2 linked regions of the Homo sapiens genome follow. The protein of the gene in region 1 purifies or fractionates together with the protein of each later gene. This does not show direct contact. Each region holds a gene or a part of one and is shown in the gene's direction. Other genes may lie near its edges.

The links.
Region 2: the proteins of IPO5 (region 1) and TANK purify together in Homo sapiens (tandem affinity purification; one large-scale study listed by IntAct). This does not show direct contact.

The regions. Positions count from the first base shown.
Region 1 is NC_000013.11:98,012,675-98,016,174, forward strand, and holds part of IPO5 (importin-5), read left to right. Parts: intron 1-1,367; coding exon 1,368-1,540; intron 1,541-2,855; coding exon 2,856-2,967; intron 2,968-3,051; coding exon 3,052-3,107; intron 3,108-3,500. UniProt on the Homo sapiens protein: Functions in nuclear protein import as nuclear transport receptor. Serves as receptor for nuclear localization signals (NLS) in cargo substrates.
Region 2 is NC_000002.12:161,233,428-161,236,730, forward strand, and holds the end of TANK (TRAF family member-associated NF-kappa-B activator), read left to right. Parts: intron 1-1,914; coding exon 1,915-2,091; 3' UTR 2,092-2,803; downstream 2,804-3,303.

The DNA.
Region 1 (3,500 bases):
TTTAAGAGATGGTGTCTCACTCTGTCACCTAGGCTGGAGTGCAGTGGCGTGATCAGGACGCACTGAAACCACAACTTCCCAAGTAGCTGGGACCCAGGTGCACAACACCAAGCCCAGCTAGATTTGATTTTTTTTTTTTTTTTTTTTTTTTTTAAGAGATAAGGTCTGCCTATGTTGCCCAGGCTGGTCTCAAACTCCTGGGCTCAAGCAGTCCTCCTGCCTTGGCCCCACAAAGTTATGGGATTACACACCTGAGCACTGTGCCTGGCAAGACCTGTCTTAATAGATTAGAGAACCACTGATAGATGGTCAGCTTTCTGTAGCAGTGAGAACCCTACATTTCAAATGTGGATAGCACCTTTGCGGGGAAACATCACTTGGCACATCTGCATTCTTTTTTGACACAGGGTCTCACTCTGTTGCCCAGGCTAGAGTGCATGGCACGATCTTAGCTCACTGCAACCTCCACCTCCCAAGTTCAAGCGATTCTTCTGCCTCAGCCTCCTGAGCAGCTGGGATCACAGACATGCGCTACCATGCCCAGCTAATTTTTTGTATTTTTTGTTTGTTTGTTTTTGTTTTTAAGTAGAGACGGGCTTTCACCACGTTGGCCAGGCAGGTCTCGAACTCCTGACCTCAGGTGATCCACCCACATCTGCGTTCCAATATCTTTCTCAACATAATGATAGCCGTAATTAATATTTTCCAGTACATTTTTATGCCTTTACACACGAGAGTGGTAGACAGACACAAACCCAGATCTGTCTGACTCCAAAGCCCGTTTGTCATCATTCCTTTTACGGTATCCTATAGTGGTATCCTTTACAGAAGACAGCTTTTACCCAACAAAGACTTAACTTCCCAGGATGCCAGAGGACAAAGCGGGATTGCTTTTAAGAGGAAGTTATCAAGACCTTATTTTATAAATGAGATTAGATAGGGAAAGGCAATTTAATCTTTATTAAAAACTGAAAAGGCCAGCATAGGAAGAGGTCCTCGGTGGTCTTTTTCAGGGAAATACTTCAGTTGCTTTTATTAGAAACAGATAGTACCTAAGGTTTTGAGGTAGGTACAGCTTAAGGCATGCTAATGGTCATGGGTCCTTCCATAGTCATTTTTGTATTTTGGTTTACATTTGAGCAATAGGCAGCCCTTCACTGCTGCTGGACTCATTCCTGCCACTATTACAGGTGACAGAGGAGACAGGAGGTATGTCTTTTCTATTTTTATACATGCTTTATATTTAACACAAGCTCTTGGGTATCTTAGATAAACAGAAGTTGCCTAGCACTCCTTTTAGTGCATTGAACCCTTTAACATTTAAGCAAAATAATAAACAGTCTTTTGAGGTTCCTTAACAATGAAACGTGTTCGAGTGGCAGCAGCGGAATCCATGCCTCTTCTCCTGGAGTGTGCAAGAGTCCGTGGTCCTGAGTATCTCACACAGATGTGGCATTTTATGTGTGATGCTCTAATTAAGGCCATTGGTACAGAACCAGATTCAGACGTCCTCTCAGAAATAATGCATTCTTTTGCAAAGGTGAATATTTTTCTCTTAAAAAATATGTATAAGGTTGTATGTTCATTTATTAGTCTTGCTAAAAGTAAAAAAAAAAAATTTGAGACAGGGTATTGCTCTGTCACCCAGGCTGGAGTGCAGTGGCGCAATCGCAGCTCACTGCAACCTCCACCTCCTGGGTTCAAGCAATTCTCATGCCTCATCCTTCCAAGTAGTTGGGATTATAGGCATGCACCACCACACCTGGCTACTTTTTGTATTTTTAGTAGATGTTCCTCAGGTCTCAAACTCCTGGCCTCAGGTGATCCACCTCGGCCTCCCAGAGTGCTGGGATTGCAGATGTAAGGCAGCTAAATAAATTTTTATATGCTATAGTGTATGATTTGTTAAAAAATAAAAATGTTAAATTTTTTGTTTTAATATTTTGGTATTATTATGTTTGTTTTAAAGAGGGTAAATTTGCCTTGGAAGGGCAGTATAGGTAGAGGGAATGATATGGGCAGCAGCATGGAAGCATGCATTCTTTGGAAAAAGAGAAGAAATTCTGAATACTCTAGTATTTTAGTCTTGCACTTAATAATCCAACTATAGAAGCTTGGGTATCATCTCCAGTTTCTGTTCTTTACACTTTCCTCAATTCTTCTCTTTTTTTTTTTTTTCATTGCCCCATCTCTTTTTCATGCCATTGAAATAGCCTCACTTGGGCTACTCCAGATGTCTCCTTTCTTTTCCTCTCAGTTCATTCTCCTTTCCTCAAGCACTGCCTTCCTCTTCATTGAGTCACTTCCTTTCTCATACAGTGTCACTCCCATTTTGCACAACTCTAGTTTGCTCCAATCTTGATTGAAGATTTACAGTTTCTCAGCATCTTTATATGTCCTTATTTACACTCCTGTAATTCAGAATTGCTTCTGATTTTCCAAAGACAGCATGCTTCCATACCTTTGCCTATATTTTATTTCTTCTACCTCTAATGCCCTTCCTTCAGTGTTCTTGTATGTTGTGTGTACGGAGTATGGATATAGCAATTGTGTTCCTTAGGAGCTGGTTGTGTGTGTGTGTGTGTGTGTGTGTGTGTTTTCCATCTTTGAATCCTCAGTACCAAGCATGATGCCTGGCACCTAGGTATGCTCAGTAGTGTTCAAAAGAAAATATTTTTTTCTAACTCCAATCTCTAAAATGCTGTCATTCTAACAAATACAAGCTAAGCATATGTAAATAATCTTCCAGGATACTGAACTGTGTTCATTTTTCCATATGATTCTTAGTGGAGTTTAACTTTGGACTCCAAACACCCCAAATCTTATGGATTGCTTTCTTTCCTCAACCTCATTAGTGCATTGAAGTAATGGGAGATGGATGCCTTAATAATGAACACTTTGAAGAACTGGGAGGTATATTGAAAGCAAAGCTTGAAGAACATTTTAAAAATCAAGAATTACGACAAGGTAAGTTTTCCATGCTTTTATTTCTGAATATAATCCTTGACCATCTTGGCAATCATTTAAAACATTTATTTGGGTGTGTTTTAGTTAAAAGACAAGATGAAGACTATGATGAACAGGTCGAAGAGTCACTACAAGATGAGGTAAGTTATTCCCTTTGGAACTTACTTACGTGACCACTTGCATCTGAAAGACTTGTAAATGCCTCAATTTCTGATTTATGTGACTTGTCATTCTGATGTAATTATCAGTCTTTAGCAGAGGAGTCAGATATATTTCCTCTCTTAATTTATGAATAAGTAATTTGAAATTAAACTGATATGTCTTTCGGTGCTATGTGCATTTTGTTGTAATACCTCACTCAACAAAACACCTTGAGGTTTACCTAGTTCATTTACATACTGCTCACAACAACCATTTGTATTTTGTGGTGCTTTCACTATATTAAAGATGAGTAACCTAAAATTCCAGTGTTAAATGATTGCCTAGAGTCACACTGTTGACGGTCTGGGGCCTTTTTCACCATGTTACTTAGT
Region 2 (3,303 bases), on another chromosome or scaffold:
AATCCTGAGTTGTTTGTAGATAGTAGCAAAGACAAGTGAAATTTTTGGCTACATATTTCAAAATTTTACTTTCTATCAATCATTACTACTAAACATCTATTTTATATATTCAGCTATCATAACCAAGACTAAAGTATATCAGATTATTATTGTTCTATGTGATTTTCTTTTTTACTTTGCTGAGTCAGTGAGTGGGATCCCAACTAAATTCTATGAAGAGATCAAATCTGAACTAAAAGTTCTTAATAGAGAAAAATGAATATGGATTTAATAGGTAAATTGGGAGTAGAAGATTGGCTTACCAAATTTAGAAGCTAAATTGCTTCTGATTTAATTTCTTACTATTTTATATAAATAAGAATTATCTTTAATAATCTTTTATTTTTGGCCATATCAATTTCCCATTACAGTGATTTGTACTTTTTTGTTTAAACTGAAAACATTAAAATTAGAATCAAGTTAACTCTAACTAGATTTTTGTTTGTATGCTCACAATTTTTACTACTTTTATCAAAGAAGTTTTTCCAGAGAGTTATTTTACCCTAAATTTTATAACATTTATTTTAAATATTACTATTTTTGTAATAAAATTGACATTTCTTATGAAAGGAATTGAGTCAGCATTATTATAAGTCCTCCATACTGATATTTGAATGTGTCTGGGTGCCTAGACAGACGTTGTATATTTACACCAATTGTACACAGCTGTCCAGTAAACTGTTCATAAGAAGACAGTGATGTCGTGAAATCCAAGTGCTTCCATTAGTAATATACTGTTTATGTAAATGATTGGTTAACCAGAATGAAAGAAGTTAGGGGAAATAACAGTAACACTTGTCAGGTGCTAGACTAGGATGTGTGACTTTAAAAACATATTAGTAATAGGAGGATAAGGGGTCTCTTTAAATTTGACTTTATGAGATGATTCTTCTTAAAATATCAGAATTTAGCTGTGTCAGAGGAATTTACCTGTGTCCACATAAGAAATTTTAAAAAATAATTTGGTTTACACAATTCAGGAAAATATTTTCCAGTTAACAGACATCTATTGTGTAGCTATTATTAAGCTAAATGCTATTTCTTGTCCTTCTAGAAATTTAAAAAAAAGAATAAATGCAGTTATGAAAGGGTATTTATGTGCTGGTTATAGTGGAGGTGGTTCTGTTAGATTATGACTTTCCATAATTCTTTAACCAGGCAACTATTGACGAGTTTCACTTTATTCAGCCACAAGAATGAGTAAGGCCAAACTACCTATTATATAACAGAAGCAAAGTAAGAAGTCAAAACACTGCATGTGTTAGATTTTGTTGAATGATTAAATATTTGTGTTTTTAAAAACAAAAGATAACATCAGTGAAATTTGTTCAGTAGTTTAAAAGGAAAATTTTCTTTTTAAAAATCAAAATAATGCTGATTCATGTATGATGTATTCACTGTATTTGCTTATAAACAGTAGTGAAATTGATTTTGATTAAGACGCAATGCACACACACATCATGTCTTGTGTACTATGTAATTAATAAAGCCCCTATAATTTAAGGTTTTTATTGTAAAAAACAAAAGATAGAATTTAATTTAAAAGACCAGAGTATTAGCTATTGTTCCAAAACTACTGCTGTTGTGATCGAGTATTAAAAATTGCATGCTAAAGCTGCAATCTTTTTAAATATATAAAGATAAAATGCATGACTGTGTGTGTCCCAAGTGACTTTTAATCAAAGTTTAGTTGTGCCCTTTATGAAACCACGAATTGAGTCATGTCATGCTAACTTTACGGAAAAGTAATTTGCTTTTATATTAGGGAATTCAATATATATGCCCATGCGTAACTCATTCAGAAATTCAAATTTGAAGTCCAGTGCTATTTGAATTTAAACATAAGTAACAGATATTTTTGTTTGTTTCCTGCAGCCCATTTGGAAGCCCTTTCCTAATCAAGACAGTGACTCGGTGGTACTAAGTGGCACAGACTCAGAACTGCATATACCTCGAGTATGTGAATTCTGTCAAGCAGTTTTCCCACCATCCATTACATCCAGGGGGGATTTCCTTCGGCATCTTAATTCACACTTCAATGGAGAGACTTAAGACACATTTGAAAACAGACATATCAAGTTCTATGTGATGATTTTGGGTTTTTAATACTATAAATACTTGATTGTAAACTAAATTCAAGATCATTTATAGGAAAATCTAGTTTCACAGCTATTTGAATTTTTTTCTGGATTTACTATATAACTCTTATTTTTTAAAAGATCATTCTGTTCTTTCAAGGAGAAATAAGCCTAAAAGAAGAAAAACAAAAAAAATTCTGTATAAAACTGTAATCCTTTGTATTCATGTTTACAGTGCTATTACTATAATTCAAAATTATGTATGTGACTTAGAGTTATATAATCATAATTTATGTTTATTTCAAATATCTAAGTTTATTGCTTGGATTTCTAGTGAGAGCTGTTGAATTTGGTGATGTCAAATGTTTCTAGGGTTTTTTTAGTTTGTTTTTATTGAAAAATTTAATTATTTATGCTATAGGTGATATTCTCTTTGAATAAACCTATAATAGAAAATAGCAGACAACATAAACATCTTTGTAAATATCAAACCTAATACATTTCTTGTCCAGTGATAAAACAACTGGTAGAATTATTTAAACACTTTAGATTTTTAAATAATATACATGGCTTTAATTTTTACTGTGTGTATAGCTACATGATGAAATTAATTAAATATTAAGAGGTACTTATGTTGTGATCATTTGTATGTCCTTTGTTCCTGAGTAAAAAAAAAAAAAAAAAAAGGGAAGGAAGGAATCACATTTTTAGGGAAGTTTATAAAATTCATGTTTTCATTTCAGTAACCTAATAGAATGGTGATGACCAGATTTGGTGGCATTTATTACAATTAGTGAATCACTTTGAATTTTAGAATTATTCTTCAAACTAAACTTTCTAAAGAAACATTTGTTTTTAACGGGAGAAAATCTAAAACCCTGCAAGGACTATCTATATTTGTTAACTTAGATTAGAAATGTTCATATTCTTGTTGAGAAATTTGTTATTCATTGTTAGCAGCCTGATTGATGGCCACTGAAGACATTTGAGAGAGTGGATACCAAATTCAGACGGCTGCAAAATTTGTTTAAAATGAGACTTCCCTTTCATTTTTATTCCCTATGATTCTCGCCTTATAGGTTTCTGTTTTCCCCTGATTCTTAAAAGTGTTTAAGGCATGGCTTCCATTTTATGAAGTAAGCATTGATTTGCAACTCTCAGAAATTTAAGCCTTCTTGAAGCAAGT